Regions from separate parts of the Homo sapiens genome. Here region 2 is linked to region 1. Evidence: fine-mapped expression QTL. A gene starts in region 1. The other region holds a variant in brackets. All regions are shown on one strand. Distances are between the middles of the regions.

Region 1 (11,311 bases):
TTCCGCATCTATAAAACAGGAATGAAAATAGTACCTATCTTAGAGAGTTGTCGTGAGTACTGAAGGAGTTCATAGAGACAAGGCAGTTAGAACAGTAAACCCCACTAGGTGATCTCATACCTGCCTCAAGACTTTATTCTCACAGCCGTTTCCACTGCAGCAAATGGGAATTCCATTCTTCTAGCTGCTTGAGCCAAAAACCTTGGAGGCATCTTTAACGCCTCTCTTCCTCTTAAACTCTACATTTAATCCATTAGGCAATCCTGTATTTCAGCTCTACTCTCAAACAAATGTATCAGAGTCCAGTGCTTTTCCTCTGTGCCCACCTTGGGCTGGGCTACCATCCCTCTCATCGGGATTATCACAAAAGCCTCCTCAGGGGTCTTCCTGCTTCCGCCCTGGCTTCCGCACTTGGCTCTCCACAGTGATCCCACTGAAATCTAAGTCACAGGGGGCCACTTCCACTGAGATCCTTTTAGTGGCCCTCACCTTGCTCAGAGTCAAAGCCAATGGCCTGCAAGCCCTGCCCCTAGCCACTTCTCTGACTGCATCTGCAAATCTAATTTTTTCTTTTTTTTCCCTGGAGTCTCACTCTGTTGCCCAGGCTGGAGAGCAGTGGTGCAATCTTGGCTCACTGCAACTTCCACCTCCCGGGCTCAAGTGATTCTCATGCCTCCTGAGTAACTGGGACTACAGGCATGCACCACCAGGCTCGGCTAATTTTTGTATTTTTGGTAAAGACGGGGTTTCACCATGTTGGCCAGGCTGGTCTCGAATTCCTGACCTCAAGTGATCCGCCCACCTCAGCCTCCTAATGTGTTGGGATTACTGGCGTGAGCCACAGCACCTGGCCTGCAAATTTAATTTTGCTTCATCTCAACCACTTGATTACTTCACTACAGACACAGGAGACTCCTTGCTGTCTCCTGAACACAACATACACACTCCTGTCTTAGGACCTTTGTGCTTGCTGTACTTTCCCCAGGTATTATTACTGTTCCCTCACTCCTTTTTGTTCAAGCCATCAAGGTCTCCCTGGATTAGTTTATATAAAACAGTCCCCGCTCCTCTCCACACCTTCCCCACCCCGCCCCCAAACTCTCTAACTCTTTAACTCTATTTCTTTTCATAGTAGTTATCACCATATACCTAGATATATATATTTGCTTATTTGTTTATTAGTTGTTTATTTTCTTTCCCCATTTGAACATGAACTCTGTAAGGCAGGCATTCCTTTATGTTGTTCAATACTGTATTCCCAGAGCATAGGACAAAATGTGGCATTTAGCTAAGTGCTCAAAAAATATTTATAAATGAATGAATGATGATTTATATTTGGCACAAAAGAGGCCCACAATAGCTACCTGTTGAATGAATGAACAAATGAGTATTGCAGAGATTCCCAGGAAGGGCACTGATAATGGGGGTAGGGGCAGAAACTAGCACATGTGTCTGGAACATTGGCTGCATGGGCTGCATGTCCCCTGAATGATGGTTTTTCTCTAGTTCTTTTTCTTTGTGGGCATTTATATGGTTTGTGGGACCACTTTTAAGTAGGCCACATGGTGGTTCTTGAGCCTCAGTGATCACCAGAAATATCCATAGAGATTCTTATTTAATGGGTCTGAGGTAGGTCTTGGGAATTTGAGTAACTTTGAGCAAGGATTTAACCCTCAGTTTCCTCGTATGTAAAATGGGATTATAACATCATTTTATAGAGTGTCAAGATTAAAGAAAATCATCTGTGCGAAGTGTCTCACACATAGTAAATATTAGATTCCCTTTGCTTCTGCTCAGGTTTTTGTTTTTGTTTTTGAGATGGAGGCTAGCTCTGATGCCCAGGCTGGAGTGCAGTGGCGCAATCTTGGCTCACTGCAACCTCCACCTCCCAGGTTCAAGTGATTCTCATACCTCAGCCTCCTGAGTAGCCGAGACTACAGGTTCACGCCACCACACCTGGCTAATTTTTGTATTTTTAGTAGAGATAGGGTTTCACCATGTTGGCCAGGCTGATCTCCAACTCCTGACCTCGAGTGATCCACCTGACTCAGCTTCCCAAAGTGCTCGATTACAGGCATGAGCCACCACACCTGGCCTGCTCAGGTTTTCTCTGAAGTTTAGAGGTTAAATCTTATGAACAGTTCATATTATGTGCTCTCCTAAAATTTAGTTTTGATTCACCTCAATCCAGATCTCTACTCTGAGTTGCAGTTTTTCAAACATAGAGTCAGTATCTTCATTTGAATGTCTCATAGGGGTATCAAACTCAACATATATAAAGCAACTCAAAATTGTCCCCTTCTGATCTCCTCCTCCACATTTCCCAAATCAGGAAATGGCATAAACTCAAATTAGAAACTTGGGAGTCATTTTTTGACACTTTTTCGCCTTTACCTTCCATGCATTTGATCAAATCCTTACAGTTCTAACCCTGACCTATATCTTCAATCCACCATCATCTCCTAATCTCCATTGCCTGCAAACTGGTTGTCACACATCCTCTGTTGCACCCTTCTTATTAATTCTCCACTCTGCAGCCGGAATAATCTCTTTTTTTTTTTTTTTTTTTTTTTTTTAAGAGACAATGTCTCACACTCTGCTGCCCAAGCTGGAATGCAGAGGCACGATCATAGCTCACTGCAGCCTCGAGCTCCTGGGCTCAGTCAGGTGCGTGCCACCAAGCCTGGCTAATTTTATTTTATTTTTGTAGAGATGGGGGTCTTGCAATGTTGCCCAGGCTGGTCTCAAACTCCTGGCCTCTAGTGATCCTCCCACCTCAGCCTCCCAATGTGCTGGGATTACAGGTGTGAGCCACTGCATCCAGGATCATCTTTTACAAATGCAATTTTTCATGTCCAGATAGGACCTTTTCAACTCTTCATTGGCTTCTTTTGTCTTTAGGATTAAATCCAAAGTCCTTAACCTGACCCTCAAGGGCCCGCCCACCTCTCCCTCCCAGGTAGCTCTCTCAGTCTAAGCACAGTGGCCTTTTCCCAAAGCCTTCACAGACAGAGCCTCTTCCTACCAAAGGGCCTTCAAACCTGCAGTTTCCACAGCTAAATGCACTGCCCACCCCACCCCCTTCTCTATGTTGCCTGCCCTAACTCCTCCTTATTCTTCAAGGCTGAGATTAAATGTCACTTCCTCCAGGAGATCTTTCTTACCCCCTAGCACAGACACGCTCCTTTGTTATACACTCTCATAACTCTCAGGCTTTTTTCCAGCAATCACAACAGCATCACCACACAGCCTCAAGTCCAAGCCACTTGCTTCACATTTGAAGTTGCCAGCTGTCAGACGGGAGATGAAGTAGAAATGGGATTGTTGTTGTCTGCACCCATTAGGACCCAGTTTTTTACAAGGGGGCATTTCCTCGCCCGATTCCAATGTGAGTTATTTTCAGGGCTGAAATTTGATTTAAATTTGGATTCCAACTTGAAGCTTAACATATCTCCAAAGTACACACTACTTTGCGGTACTGAATGAAGAATGTAAGTAGAAGGTTGCCTGCCACATGCCATGTAATGCTCTGAAGGACGGTAGAAACCACCAGCTCTCTCAGAAAAAAATGGTGGAAGAATTTTCAAAACCAAGACAGGCTGGCTTCTGTATATGCTTTGTGTAGAAATCTTGAAAGACTACACACTCAGGGGAGGAACACATATTGGGTGGAACTTCTGCCAAACTTTCAAGAGCAGCTACTTTCTAATGATCTGTAATTCAAAAAACAACCAGAACAAAAACCAGCTGGAAATGCAGTCAAAACACTGCTTTTCCATATTCCTTGCAATTATACTTTCATTTTTAGGTGGTGAGGAACACCAGGATGAGTCATTATAAAAAGCATGACTGCAGATGGCCAAGAGTGATACCGAAGCACCCTTCACCCTGAAGGTTAAGGTTAAAGCTCAAAGTCTGATCGCAAAGCATAAGGAAAAAAAAAAAGAACATGGATAAATGTATGCTGGTGTCCTTCAGCACCAGAAAAGCTGCTACTAAATCACTGGTGTGGCTTGGAATTGGTAGAAGCTTTGATTTGAGGAAAAGAGTATCATTAGCTGTGTAATTTTGAGTTGTTGTTTTAGAGACAAGGTCTCATTTTGTGGCCCAGACTGGAGTGCAGTGATGCGATCATAGCCCGCTGCAGCCTTGAACTCCTGGGCTCAGGCGATCCTCCCACCTCAGTCTCCTAGCCACTCCAGGTCTCGCTGTGTTTGCCCAGGCTGGTCTCAAATTCCTGGCCTCAAGCGATCCTCTCGCCTGGTCCTCCCGAAGTGTTGAGGTTACACGCATGAGCCACCAATCCTGGCATTATGGCATTAGCTGTGTAATTTTTAAAATAACTGTCTTCGGACCAACACCTTTCTTTTGTTCACTGGAGTATCCCTGGGGTGTGTCTCATTCCCTGAATCATACACAGTAGATGCTCAATAGTTTTGTAAATAAAATAAATGAGCTCTCGGATTTACATGCAGACTTTGGATCAGTTTGATCTAGGTTTAAAAGCAAGTGTGGGGAAACTTGAAAAGCCTGGCACCCCAGCCAACTCTTCAGCGCCCCATGCGCTTGGCGCCTACACCTGCCTGGCACGGGGAGGGTGCTATGGGGCTGCCCTAAACCTCACCCCCTCCTGCGGTGGTTCCTGCCCGTCTCGGCTCCTGCACCGCCCACACTATGCGCTGCTGGGCCGAAAGACACGTGGTTCGGTTTTAACTCCAGTCTGCAAGAAACATGACCTCAGCCAAAAAGAGGCCGCTGGTCTGAGAAGAGAAATCATGAGTCATGGATTCGGGGGTTCGGACCTTGGAGCAGGCGGTGAAGTGGGCGTGCGTGGGCTGGTGGGGAAGAGGGATGCCGAAGGAGGCCACAGCCCTTCTCTCCTGGGCAGGCTCCCCAGAAAACTGCCCCCTTGCCGTCATCCAGCGCCCCCGTTCCCGACAGCTGTCTGCCAGGGCGCGGCCGGGGTCCGGGCGGGGCGGTGCTGTCGCTCCGGGTCGCCGCCCCGCGGGCCACATCACCAAGGCCCGGGCTTCCCCGGCGGCGGCGCGGCTGCGCTTGCGCGGGGCTGCCGCGCGGGGGCGGGGCGGCGGGGAGTCAGGGGGCCGCGGGCGCCGACGGCCGGGCTGTCAGCTTGGGGCCGCAGCCGCGCGAGGAGGCGCGGGAGCAGGAAGGAGCTGTGGGCTGGGAGCCGCTGTCCTCCCCGCCACCACCGGTGCCGGGCACCAGGTGAATGCCCCTTCCATCCCCCGCCCCTGGTGTCTCGGTCTGGTCTGAGGAGACGGGGACCCTTCTCACACCGGCCGCTGCCGCCGCCGCGCTCCGGAACAGGTGACCATGGAGGGGAAGTCTCGGCTTCGGCCGCGGCGCCGCGTTCGGGCGCATCAGGTGCGGGAGGGAGGTGGGGCCGAGAGGCCTGGGCTCGGGACCCGGCGGCGGGGGCGCGGGGAGCAGAGGGAGCGGCCCCGCCCGAGCAGCCGTGCCCCCTGCGGACGCCTCTCCGGGCCGCCGGGCAGCGCCCGAGCCCAGGCCCCCGCGCCTGCCCCACCTCGGGCTGAGGGAAGCTGTTCCGCGGCCACCGCGGACAAGCGGTCCCGGGCGCCCAAGGCAGGGACAGGCGGCGGGTGGTGTATGAGTGATGGCTGAAGGTGAGCTGGGATGGAGATGCTGCGAGGCTGGCTCGGGCACACCCCAGATGCCTGTTCAGGGCTCCGCGAGTGCCCCGTCACCCTTTTCTTTCATTCTTCTCTTTATATACACGGAGCATATCTCAAATTTAAAAGCCCAAATGCTCATTTACAGAGAGAGATGACACATATCTATGTGTTACCGATATACATTGATGTGTATATTACGTATATATGTCATCTTTTTTTTGTAGTGACAATTTTTAAATTGAGATATACATCACATGCCATAAAACTCATTCTTCTAAAGTGTGGCTTTTAATATATTCACAGAGTTTTCCAAATATGACCACTATCCAGATCATCATCCCCAAAAGAAACCCTGTCTCTCTTAGTAATCACTCCTCATTTCCCCTTGACCCCACCCCACTAGCCACCACTAATCTACTTTCTGTTTATATGGGTTTGCCTGTTGTGGAAATCTCATATAAATGGAAGCGTACAATATGTGGCTTTTTGTGTCTGGCGTCGAAAGACATACTGTAATGTTTTCAAGTTTCACTCATGTAGTATGTATCAGTACTTTACTTTTTATAGCATATTAATATTGTTGTATCAGTGTACCACATTTGTTTATTCATCAGTTGATGTACATTTGGGTTGTTTCCAGTTTTTGGCCATTGTGTGTAATGCTGCTATGCACATTTGTTTACACGTTTTTGTGGACATGTGTTTTCAGTGCTCTTGGGTATATACCTAGGAGGGCAATTGCTCCGTGTTTCACTTTTTGAGGAACTGCCAAGCAAAGCAGCTGTACCATTTTACTTTCCCACTAAGCAGTGTATGAGGGTTCCGATTTCTTCACATCTTCCCCAAGGCTTGTTACTTTTTTACTGGTTATTTTTTATGATAGCCATCGTAGTGAGTGTGGAATGGTATCTCTTTGTGGTTTTGATTTGCATTTCTCTAATGATTGGGGATGCTGAGCATCTTTTCATGTGCTTATTGGCCATTCATATATTTTCTTTGGAGAAAATGTTCATATCTTTTACCCATATTTTAATTGGGTTGCTTGGCTTTTTATTTTTATTTATTTATTTATTTATTTATTTGGAGACTGACTCTCAGTCTGTCACCCAGGCTGGAGTGCAGTGGCACAATCTTGGCTCACTGCAACCTCCACCTCCGGGGTTCAAGCGATTCTCCTGCCTCAGCCTCCCAAGTAGCTGGGACTACAGGCACACACCACTATGCCCGGCTAATTTTTGTATTTTTAGTAGAGACGTGGTTTCACCATGTTGGCCAGGTTGGTCTCCAACTCCTGAATTCAAGTGATCTGCCCACCTCGGCTTCCCAAAGTGCTGGGATTACAGGCATAAGCCACCACGGCCAGTCTGGGTTGCTTAGCTTTTTATTGAGTTTTATTGTTCATTTATGGAAAAAAATTTCTGTTAATAGGTTTGGATACTGGCACTGACTTGAAAAAATCCAACCAATCTGATACCGAAAAACTTAATGCTTATTCTTGGGTAAAGGTTGAATAAGTGCCACTTCATTCTTTAAGAATACCCTACCTGTTCATTCTGGACATCTTACTGACCCCTTTACATTTACTGCCCTGGTATTTTGAGCAAAGCTACAGAAGGCATATTCCTGACTGGAGTCAAGAGAGACCACCCTTAATTGGTATTTTCATATATTCTATGCTCAATTTGAAAATCCCAGTTATCACTTTAATTACAAAAAATTTATATTAGTGGCCAGCTGAACAAACTAACAATAAATGGCAAGCACAAATCACTCAAAAATTTATGTTTAACTTCTCAGTAAAGTGGAGAATCTTGTTTTCTTAAGTTTGTGCAGTGTAGTTTTTATTACAATTATGTTCATGTGTGGGTGGTAAATAAATATTTTTGATGGCACTAAAGTTAAGAGCCACTTACAGCTAAATGAATGCTGCTGTGCTTATTTCATGGTTAATTTCCGAGCGCACACAAATTCAGCATCAGGTCTTTCATGGCCAAAAAAAAAAAAACCACTAAAAAGACCTGATGTTACCTCCCAGGAATTCAAACTCAATTTTCCACTGATCTAATATGATTGTTGTTAAAGAAAAAGATTATTCGATGATACTTGTTAAAATGTGGTAAAAAAAAGTCTATTCAGGACCATTGTGATAGGTAAAGGGACCATGGAATGGGATTTTGCAGTTTGGGAGGAAGACTAGGCTCAATTCTGAATACGGTGTGGGCAAATGGGAATTTATAGCCAAGGAGCAGTGTCATGGTCAGTGGACAGAAAAGTACTGAGAGGAAACACCGGGGGTAGTGGATATTCAGACCAAACCAACCTAACAGGATTCTTGCTGAAGACAGGCCAGAGTGATCAGACACCACCTGGGGGACAGTGGAAGCTGAGGAACCTAATCAGGTTGTGAGGGTAATCAGGTAGCGAGGGTAATCAGAAAGCGAGGGCCAGCTGGGTGCAGTGGTTCATGCTTGTAATCCCAGCACTTTGGGAGGCTGAGGCGGGCAGATCACCTGAGGTTGGGAGTTCGAGACCAGACTGGCCAACATGGTGAAACCCTGTCTCTCCTAAAAATACAAAAATTAGCCTGGTGTGCTGGCGGGCACCTGTAATCCCAGCTTCTCAGAAGGCTGAGGCAGGAGAATTGCTTGAACCCAGGAGGTGGTGGAAGTTGCAGTGAACCGAGATCACGCCACTGCACAGAGCAAAACTTCGTCTTAACTCAAAAAAAAAAAAAAAAAAAAAAAAGCAAGGGCCAAGAGTCAGGGGCTGTTGCTAAACTCACTTGACGAGGTTCTTTGATAAAACTGCATTTTACAAGGAAGTGCACAAATGGGCCTAGAAGGTTCAGGGGCCTGAGTAAAATTTCGTCAAGAAAAGAATCTTTCTCATTGTTGGAAAGTACACTTCCCAATTTCCAAAACTTTATAGAAAATACAAGTAAAGGTTTCCAAATGGAAATAATAGATAAGCAACTGATAAAAAGCATGTGAAGCATAGCCTAACTCTGCTTCAACCTATACATTACAAAATGATGGATATATGAATTAACCCTTTTATGCCACTGCCTTTATTTAGAAGAATGAGGCTGGTAATTTCGGGTTTATAACCCAAAATGTGTTTTTACTTTGTTTTAACTAATGAAATTATTATCAAACGTATTGAAAATATAAACTATCCAACCTAATATTGATTGTTACCAACTTACCCAATGGATATACAAATATCCTGCAGCTACAGATGTTTTCTCTGCCCGCTGGGGTTTTTAGTGGCGCTTATTGGGAAGGACTGAAAGTAGAGGGCAGTGACAATTGGGAATCGCTATGGAGATATCCCTGAGAAGTGATGGTCACAGCTGACCTGTCTCCTTTATGGTAGATGAGGGTAGGGACACTTTTTCTTCTCTCTGAACGTACTGCAGTTAGATTTATTTAGCTTAAAAATAACAAATACAGAAATATTTAGATGGAAATGACTAGAACTGTCAGTTATTCTATTTTAATGTGAATGGATTTAATCAGATTGCTTTCTTCTTGGTTAGCTACACTAAGGAAGTGGGAGTTTTGACTTGAGGAGGGATAGTAGATGTAAGTATTATGAGATCGTGGAACATTTTGGAATATTGGGCAAAGTTTGCCCTACTTCTAAAAGTGAGGATGTTAAAAAATGGAAAGCTTTAGATAGCATGAGGGATCTGAAAGATGAGAAAAGAAAAGCAAGAATGAAACAATTTGGAAGGAAAGATTGTAGGATATAAAGACAGATTCGACTTATTTAGACATTTTTGCCCAAGAAAAATGTCTAAATAGGAAAAGTGGAAACCTTTTCCTTCATTTGATCCCTCTTTCCTTTTGCCCCACCTTGCTGCTCCATGCTAACTGTTCTCCTAGGACCCAGAAATCAGACTGGGATTACTGTTGTTCATGTTGAAGCTTTCAAGTGTGCTAGTTACACCCCTTCTCTCTCCATATTCTAGTCAAATTGAGATCAGACTCAAGCCAGATAAGAATTTAAATACTATTAAAATAATAGTGTAATTTTCATTTCCGGTAAAGCTGGATTGGAGAACTGAGCTTAGACCCATGCTTACTGTTCTTTCTTAATTTACCTACCCAGATGAAACTGTTGCACCAGGAAATGGAAGGGAAAGTCCTGTCCTAAGGAGCTTATCTTATAGCAGTTAGAATGGAAAGGAAAACTTTCTCTCCTTGAGGGCACAGCAAGTCCAAGAAAGCCAGTGAGAGCTCACGGGTGGAGCCTGTCTGAACAGTTGACCTTTATACCTATCCTAGCAATTAGATAAGTCACTTTCCTGTGGGAGGAATTAGTGATGGGGGTGGAGAGAAAGAAAAGTGTTCCTTTAATCTTGTTTTCTCCTACTTAGAGGAGTGAAAGTTCTGTTGTCATTGCAGAGAGAAGTAAACAGCCATCCTCTCATAGTTAAGTATGTTATGGGAAATAAATAGTGTTTTGTAGGCTAGCCTAGGAACTAATTCACCATTTATAAAAATGAACTGACTGTATATTTTCCTTGGAAATAACTAAATCTCTTAGACACTTTTGAGTGATTATTTTATTGTGTAGTTAAATATATAGATTATTCAAGTCTATTTCCTTGTTTTACCAGTACTGGTTAAATATTTATGGAATGTCTAATACGTGACAGGCACTGGGCTAGGCTTTGGGATTCAGTGGTGAACAAGAATGGGTCCTTGCTCTAAGAGTTACAACCTAGAAAAACAGTTAGTACAAGTACCATTACGATAAAGCGTAATAAGCATTGGTTAAGTGTAGAGTGCTTTGGAACCACAGAAGAAGGAGAACTTATCTATGAGGGCCAGGGACATGGATGTTAAAGAGCTGAGATCTTAAGCTGAATAGGAAGTAGCTAGGTAAAAGGGAAGAGTGAGGTTGAGCAGAAGTGTTTTGAGCAAAAAGAACATGTGGAAAGGCCAAGAGGTGTGAGAATGTGGTACACTAAAGTGACATTTTTTTTCTTTAACTGCAGGCACCTACTAGTAGATTGTGAAAGCAAATTAGTGAGTTGTAATCCACATGTTTTTTAAAAGGAATACAATAGAAAATGAGGGTGTGCCACTCATAGATACTTACTGGATTGTAGGGGTAAGTAGGGGTGTTTATGCAGGATTTAGTTAACCTTATTAAAGAAGTTGGATTTATCTTAGAGGAAATGACAAATCATTGAAAAGTTCTAATCGGGGCCTGATTAGAGATCTTTAGAAAAAGGTCTCTTTGGGTACCTGGTCTTTCTTAACTCGGATGTAAACTTCAAATTCATTGGCCCAGCATTACAGGTATTCCAAAACCTGGTTCCAATCTATTTCTTGTAAAAAATCTTCCCACTATTTTTGTTATTGGAATTTCCCAGTTCATAAAGATTCGTTCGCCTAAGTACCTTTGCACCAAGACCAAAAGGTCTGTGAGAACAGATTTCACTTCTGTCCTTTAACATTGAGTCTCTGGCAACTAGTATAGTGCCTGGCTCACAATAGAGACTAAGCAAATCTTCGTTGATAGAGTCTAAATACCTTTAATATTAGGAACATTATGCAGTAGTAGACATGACGTTGCTGTTTCTGGTAATGTCTGCTTTGGGACAAAGAAAAAGTTTTCATTCAAATTTTTTTTCTCAGTTGAAA
Region 2 (8,000 bases), 210 kb after region 1:
TCTCGCTTTGATCTCTCAAAAGTATAAATTAGGTCAGAGGAGGGCTGATTCTAGGAAACCGTGAACATGGCTCCGGGCTCTGGGCTGTGTCCTGCATTCTCGTTTAGATGTCTATTTTTAATTTGGACATTTATAAAAGGCAACCATAATTAGTTTAAGTAACAAATTTAGGGACTGTTTGAAAAAGTCTTTAAAATTTTACTACGTTTCATCTTAAAAGGAAGAGCTGGTTTCCCTTAAATTAAAACATTACTGCAGCGTTTGCAATTTCCCTCAGACACAAGAACCCAAACAGGAGGAAGAGAGGTCGCCCCCTTTGACTGTCTCGGGGTGGGCAGAGTCGGGGGACATGCAGGCAAATAGACCCAGAGAAACAGGTACATTTGGAAGCATTAAGTGACTGAGGGTTTTCTGAATCTGCCTTTAACAACTGTTAGCTTGGGTCTAGCCTCAGTTTCTCCACTTAAAAATCTGAATGCAAAACCCCTCTCAGCATGTCAGTTGTGCTGCCATCATCTTTCTGTTTCAGAATTGGGGGAGGGGGAGGAGCACCTGATGAGCTGATTTGCTCTGATTATATGACGTTTCTTTCTGGCAGAGGAATTACTAAACTCTCATGAAAAGGGCTAGTCATGAGGAATCACCGAAGACACCACATCCACAGCAAAAAAAGGGTCACATATTTATACTAGCTACCATATATTGAGCACTTACTATGTACCAGCTACTGTTGATCTTCACACTCTATGAGGTAGGTATCATTAGTATTTTCAACTTGTGGATAAGGAAACAGGCACAGGGAGAATAATTAACTTGCTCAAGCTCAGGGAGCTAGGAACCGGGTCTGGGGTTCGAGTCCAGGCAGACTGTGGTCTGAGACCCTGCATGGTGCAGCCTCCTGGGGTCTGGAGACCCACCCGGGAGTTATCGGCTCCCGGGCAGCCGCTGGAGGCGTGGGTCTCAACCCTAGCAGCTCACTGGGATCATAGGAGAGCTTTAAACACTGAGGACTGAGTCCCACCCCAGAGATCTGTTATATTTAATTGCTCCTGGAAATCTGAGGCTGCCCGGGTGGGACTCCACTATTTCAGGGGCTCCAATGCCAGGAGCTATAAGCTAAAGCAAAGAACTGGACTGGAGTGGTGACCGGCATATGATCTTGGGCCAGTTTCACCTTCCTGGTCCTCAGGTTTAAGATAGGGGACTTTTCATTCAGTAGAGCCAGGGGTCAAAGGTCTAGAAGGTCACAGGTCTCAGACATCTTTGGGTGCATTTTAGGGGAAGCACTAAGAATTACATAATGCTCAAAACCTCTTAGGTTTAGAAAAGAAAGGAGAAAAATATTGGGCCTTTAAAGAAACGATCTGGTCTGGACCTGGTACAAAACGTAAAGGGTTTAGGAAAGAAGTGGCTTCATGTTAACTGACATTAACGTTGTCAGGGAAATTGGTTTCTCTGGATTGTAACTTGTCACTAGGGAAGCACCTGTTTGACTGCAAGGAACAACAACTGAATCTCTGCAGAAGCTTTGCCTTCCTTTCCAAGGCAAAAGGAAGAAGGAAAATGCACCGTGGCTGGAAAGCATTTTGAGCCCTGAAGGTGAGGTAGGAGGCTCTGGGTGATAGTGATGGAGGGCCTGGTGTTGGCCTCTGGATCAGCCCCCAAGCCAGCCTCAGCTGACACTGGCACAGGTGGGTGATAGTTCTGAGCTCCATTTTAACCTTGGGATCTTTATAGGCAGAAAAAAATGAGCAGAAAGGAAAGCCCAGGATTTGCTGAGCAATGAGAAAGGGTTGTTTCACCCTAGTGTAGTTAAAGTACTTCTTTTGTAGGCAGGGTTTATATTGGGTGACCTGGGTTAGAGTCACAAACTCAAAGGCTCTCCAGAACCATCAGGAAATAGAAATGAATGGCCTCGGCACCTTGAATGGGAATGAACCCAGTCAGCGTCCACTGGGCCACTGAAGGTGGCTGATGCCACATAGATCTCACTGATACCGTCATTAGGGAATTGAGGACCTGGTCTTTCGAGATGTTTCAATTTCTCAAGAGAAGTCAGAATTCAAACCCAGAGCCAACATCATACTAAACGGGCAAAAGCTGGAAGCATTCCCCTTGAAAACCAGCACAAGACAAGGATGACCTCTCTCACCACTCCTATTAAACATAGTATTGGAATTTCTGGCCAGGGTGATCAGGCAAGAGAAGGAGATAAAGGACATTTGAGTAGGAAGAAAGGAAGTCAAACTACCCCTGTTTGCAGATGAGATGATCCTACATCTAGAAAACCCTGTTGTCTGAGCCCAAAAGCTTCTTAAGCTGATAAACAACTTCAGCAAAGTCTCAGGATACAAAATCAGTGTACAAAAATCACTAGCACTCTCATACACCAACAATAGTCAAGTCAAGAGCCAAATCAGGAATGAACTCCCATTCACAATGGCCACAAAAAGAATAAAATACCTAGGGATACAGCTAACCAGGGAGGTGAAAGATCTCTATGATGAGAACTATAAGCCACTGCACAAAAAAATCAGAGATGACACAAACAAATGGAAAAATATTCCATGCTCATGGATAGGAAGAATCAATATCATTAAAATGGCCCTACTGCCTAAAGCAATTTATATATTCAATGCTATTCCTATTAAACTACCACTGACATTTTTCACAGTACTAGACAAAAGTATTCTATAATTCATATGGAACCAAAAAAGAGCCCGAATAGCCAAGGGAATCCTAAGCAAAAAGAACAAAGCTGGAGGCATCAGCTACCCTACTTGCTATTCTACAGGGCTATAGTAACCGAAACGGCATGGTACTGGAACAAAAACAGACACATAGACCAATGGAACAGAATAGAGAACCCAGAAATAGGACCACACACCTACAACTATCTGATCTTCAGCAAACCTGACAAAAACAAACAATGAGGAAAGGATTCCCTATTCAATAAATGGTGCTAGGGGCCGGGCGTGGTGGCTTATGCCTGTAATCCCAGCACTTTGGGAGGCTGAGGCAGGCAGATCACTTGAGGTCAGGAGTTCGAGAACAGCCTGGCCAACACGGCGAAACCCGGTCTTTACTAAAAATACAAAAATTACCCAGGCATGATGGTGGGCACCTGTAATCCTAGCTACTTGGGAGGCTGAGGCAGGAGAATTGCTTGAACCTGGGAGGCGGAGGTTGCAGTGAGCCGAGATCATGCCATTGCACTCCAGCCTGGGCAAGAGAGCAAGACTCTGTCTCAAAAAATAAATAAATAAATAAATAAATAAAT[AAATAAATAAATAAATG/G]ATGCTGGGATAACTGGCTGTCCCTATGCAGAAGATTAAAACTGAATCCCTTCCTTACACCACAGACATAAATTAACTCAAGATGGATTAAAGACTTGTATGTGAAACCCAAAACTATAAAAACCCTAGAAGACAACCTAGGCGATCCCACTCAGGACATACACACGGGAAAAGACTTCATGATGAAGATACCGAAAGCAATTGCAACAAAAGCAAAAACTGACAAGTGGGATCTAATGTAACTAAAGGGCTTCTGCACAGCAAAAGAAACTATCAACAGAGTAAACAGACAACCAATAACAGAACGGGAGGAAATTTTTACGAACTATGCATCCGACAAAGGTCTAATATCCAGCATCTATAAGGAACTTAAACAAATTTACAAGAAAAAAACAACCCCATAAAAAAGTGGGCAGAGGATGTGAACAGACAGTTTTCAAAAGAAGACATACATGAGGCCAACAATCATACAAAAAAAAGTTCCGCATCACTGATCATTAGAGAAATGCAAATCAAACCCACAATGAGATACCATCTCACACCAGTCAGAATGGCTATTACTAAAAAGTCAAAATAACAGATGCTGGCAAGGTTGCGGAGAAAAAGGAACACTTATACACTGTTGGTGGGAGTGTAAATTAGTTCAACCATTGTGGAAGACAGTGTGTCAATTCCTCAAAGACCTAAAGACAGAAATACCATTTGACTCAGCAATCCCATTACTGGGTATATACCCAAAGGAATATAAATCATTCTATTATAAAGACACATGCACACATGTGTTCACTGCAGCACTGTTTACAATAGCAAAGACATGGAATCAACCTAAATGCCCAATAATAGTCTGGATAAAGAAAATGTGGTACATATATACCATGGAGTACTATGCAGCCATAAAAAAAGAGAGATCATGTCCTCTGCTGGGACATGGATGGAGCTGGAGGCCATAATCCTTAGCAAACGAATGCAGAACAGAAAACCAAATGCCACATGTTCTCACTTATAAGTGGGAGCTAAATGATGAGAACACATGGACACAGAGGGGAACACTCAGTGGGGCCTTTTGGAGGGTGGAAGGTGGGAGGAGGGAGAAGATCAGGAAAAACAACTAATGGGTACTGGGTTTAATACTTGGGTGATGAAAGAATCTGTACAACAGACCCCCATGACCCAAGTTCACCTATGTAACAAACCTGCATATGTGCCCCTGAACTTAAAAGTTAGAAAAATATAAATTAAAAAAAGAGAAGTCAGAATATTAGGTTTCATGTGATATCTCTGTATTCTTAAATGTTAGCTACAATCATTTTAGTGGTGTGAGCCGAACCATCCCTGTAGGGTTGGTGCCTCCCCCAGGTGTTTGAGGATAGTAAGGGGGTGCCTTCCTCTGGCTGCTCTCAGCCCCCACTGCCTCCAGCCCAGCTGCCCCTGCTCACTTAGTGGAACCTGTGGGCAACTGCAAGAGAAAGACAAGGCGGAACCAGCCAGACTGTGGGAGTCCCTGGGTGCAGTTAGGAAGGCTCACACTCAGTGGTGGATATTAAGAGACACCTCTGGAACCTCAGCTCTCCCATCCCCTTCCCTGCTTCCCTTTTCTTTGTAGTACTTATCTCCTTAGTTTATCTCAATTTACTTATTTTGCTGGTCTCTCCCTTCTTGAACGTTAACTCTGAGATGGCAGGTAGTTTTCACTAATTTTTGTTCACTGTTGTATTCCCAGTGCTTCACATACGGTGGACACTGAAAGCTTTGTTGAATGCATGAATGACTTTGGGACAGCAGGGATTGTTCGGGTCACAAGACGGCCAATGAGGCCTCGTGGGCTTCCTGTGCCTAAACCCGCAGCCCCCACCTCATCTTCTGGTGGAGATTTCTGGCTTAGAGCCTGTGGCTGCCACACAGGAGCTTAGCATCAGCTCTGGGGCTGGAGGCCAAGAGAGAAGAGCGGGGACTCTCAGCCCTGGGTAGAAATGCAACAGCTTTTGATGAGGGAGGGACGCTGGCACTTTCCACCCGTCTGGTGAGGCCAAGAAACAAGAGGAGGGGAATCAAATCACGCTGGAGGGGGAGGGCGCCAAGGGCTGCCCAGGAAGGACTTGGTCTGAGGCTGTGTGGTACCCCCGGGGCTCCCTTTCAGCCAGGCCAGGTGCAGCTGGAAGGGCCTTATTGACATCTCAGATCAGCTGTTTGGGCTTCCGGAGGCCTGGGCAGGGTGCCGGAGGGGGGCAGGAATAGGAATGGGGCTGCTGCCAAGCTGGCCTGCTTTCCGATGAATGGTGGCCCGGAACAGGAACAACGGTGAGGAAGGGATGCAGCTCCCACACTGCTTGGGAAATCAGAAGTAAGGGCAGGCAGGCTGAGCACCTGCTGGCTAGTGCTTTGGGGTCCTCGGAAGTCGCTGCTGGCAGGAGTAGGGGAGGAGGAGCATGGGTCCACTGAGCAGTCCCGGGTGGCTTACCCCTCCCCTAGCCAGGGAGGCCGTCAACCTCCCCTACCACGATGGGCCTCCCAGAGGGTGATGCTCTTGGGAGGCAGGGGCTTGCCTCCCTTCAGGATCTCCTCCTGGCCTCTCCCTTCTTTGAACCAGTTGGCTTCATTGGTTCTCTTCCCAGACTGACCAGAATATTCTACTTCTATTTTGGCCTAATCACTTGAGCCCTTCAGGCCTTAGTTTCCTCATCTGCAAAATGGGGACAACAATAAAGTCTACTTCTCAGGGTCATTTTGAGGATTAGATGAGAGCCCACAAGGAAAGCACATAGCATGGTACCTGGCACATAGTAGGCACTCAGGAAGTAGCTACTGTAAACCTTACAGAGGGTGGTTTCCCAAGTGCCGGGGGCAGGATAGCAGGAATGTTGCTTTGCCTTTCACCTGACAGCATTTCTCAATGTTCAGTGTATGTAAGAATCACAGCGGGAATCTGATGCAATGCGGGTTCCCAGACACCACCCTGAGTAATTCTGGTTCAGTGGGTCGGGCTGTCCTGGGAACCTGCTCTTGATCGCTGCCCCGTGATGATTCTATCAGGCCAATTCTGAGGCTGGTGGTCTCTGTTTCACTTTGAGAACTGATGATTGAGCGTCGCTTTTACATGAGCGGGTTCTGCAGTGAACGCCAAACACATTTGTCATCTGTGCAAAATGCCTGGCTCATGGCGACTTAATATCTCACTGACACAGAAGACCGATAGAGGCAATTGGCGGCAACTTAGATTGGCAGCTGTTAAGCAAATTGGAGGTCTGAAGAGCAATTTTCTGGCAATATCAAGATTAGCTATTAATATGTATTAACAGACTGTAAAGGATTCATGGAATTTCACAGTAACTGAACTATGAATTGAGAGGCACCCAAAGAGGTCCATTTATTTCTTAGTCAAGCAGCATGTTTTAACAATACCCGATTTCTCCATTGTTCCAAAGGCACGCATGAGCCATGCTCTGGGCCTTTCGTTTCTGCATGTTGCATGCTTCCAGTGAGAGGAAGGCTGGTCCTCCCCCAAGAGAGAGGTGGAGCTAGTTCTGCAGATGGGGCTCCAAAGCCCTCCTCCTACCCCTGCCTGGAAGACACCCTCGTTCTCTCCCCAGTAACCACCACCACCAAGCCTGGGGCCCCAACGGAGCCATTTCCACCACCTTTACCTTCACCCCTTTGCCTCAACCTGCTCCATCCTGATCATAGTTAATGTCACTATGAACAATGTGAGCTCAACTCATGCCCTCCCTCCAGGGCAGCTGGGATAAGGCCCAGGTATCTCAGTGTCCCAGGCACTTGGTGCCCAATACTTGCAGAATTCAGAAAAGGGTGATTAGCTTTGTGGCAACACATGAACATCTTTGCAGAGTACTAAGAAGATTTTGTTTATCACTTCACTGCCTTTTTCCTCTTTCAAGAAGGACGGCCCATTCTCAATCATAGTGAAAGTGGAACAGGAAGACCATCGTGGAGTGCTAGAGGGACAAGCACGTCTAAATCCATCCATCTGCTGTTCACTGAGGAAGTCAGACATCTCTGCGGCTTCTTAGGCCATGGCCGAGGACATGAAGATACAGATATCCAGGAACAGAGTCACACACAATGGCAGGGACACAGACCCGGGGCCCAGAGGTGAATAAGACACCCTCAATTGCATGACATCAGAGGTATTAATATTCTTCTGCCTGTAGAGCTTTCAAATAATTTTGCATCTCAGAGTCCTTAGAACCCAGAACTTCAGAGTTACAAAATACCTTTGTGATTATCTGATACCACCCTCTGATTTTCAGATGGCAAAACTGAGGCCCAGAGATGAGAGCTCATCCACCCACTCCCAGAAAGCAGCAGAGCAAAGACTGGAACCCAAATATGCCTTTTTGTTGTGCTGCTGGACAGCAGAGCAAAAAGAGGGATTTTCTCCTTCTATCCACCCAGCAGCCCTTGTTGGAGGTGCAGGGATGGATTCCAGGGCAGAGTGAGAGGGCAGGGAGTGTCATCTGTGTGGTGCCATAACATTCCTATGAAATAGAAAAACCATCTTTGCTACCTTCCATCAACCTCAGAGGAGTATTTTGACAACACATGTAGATTTATGATCAATGGAAATTATAAAACTAAAAAGAAGTGAGTGACCCATTTTATTATCCAGAATAGGGAACGTGGGATAGGTCCCCCTGGGCTGGCCTGATTTCAGAGCTCATTAAAGAAAAGTGAGGCAAGAACTGGGAA

Direction of the effects. Positions count from the first base shown, and alleles are read on the strand shown. Sizes are in standard deviations (SD) of each study's normalised expression.
For the expression in monocytes of the gene that starts at base 5,126 in region 1, AAATAAATAAATAAATG is the high allele of the variant in region 2 and G is the other (moderate effect, 0.53 SD a copy in BLUEPRINT).

The links.
Region 2: its variant is fine-mapped to the expression of SLC41A2 in monocytes (BLUEPRINT, PIP 0.95).

Annotation. Positions count from the first base shown.
Region 1 is chr12:104,952,105-104,963,415 of GRCh38, reverse strand. SLC41A2 (solute carrier family 41 member 2) reads left to right here and starts at 5,126. Exons shown (of 11, transcript NM_001352171.3): 1 at 5,126-5,328. RefSeq lists silencers at 4,948-5,217, 5,408-5,737.
Region 2 is chr12:104,740,141-104,748,140 of GRCh38, reverse strand. All of the region lies in intron 2 of CHST11 (carbohydrate sulfotransferase 11), which reads right to left. Among named protein-coding and RNA genes, the nearest start is that of MIR3922, 150 kb to the right of the region's middle. RefSeq lists enhancers at 4,771-5,392, 7,099-7,148. The variant AAATAAATAAATAAATG/G (reference allele first, on the strand shown) is at 3,281.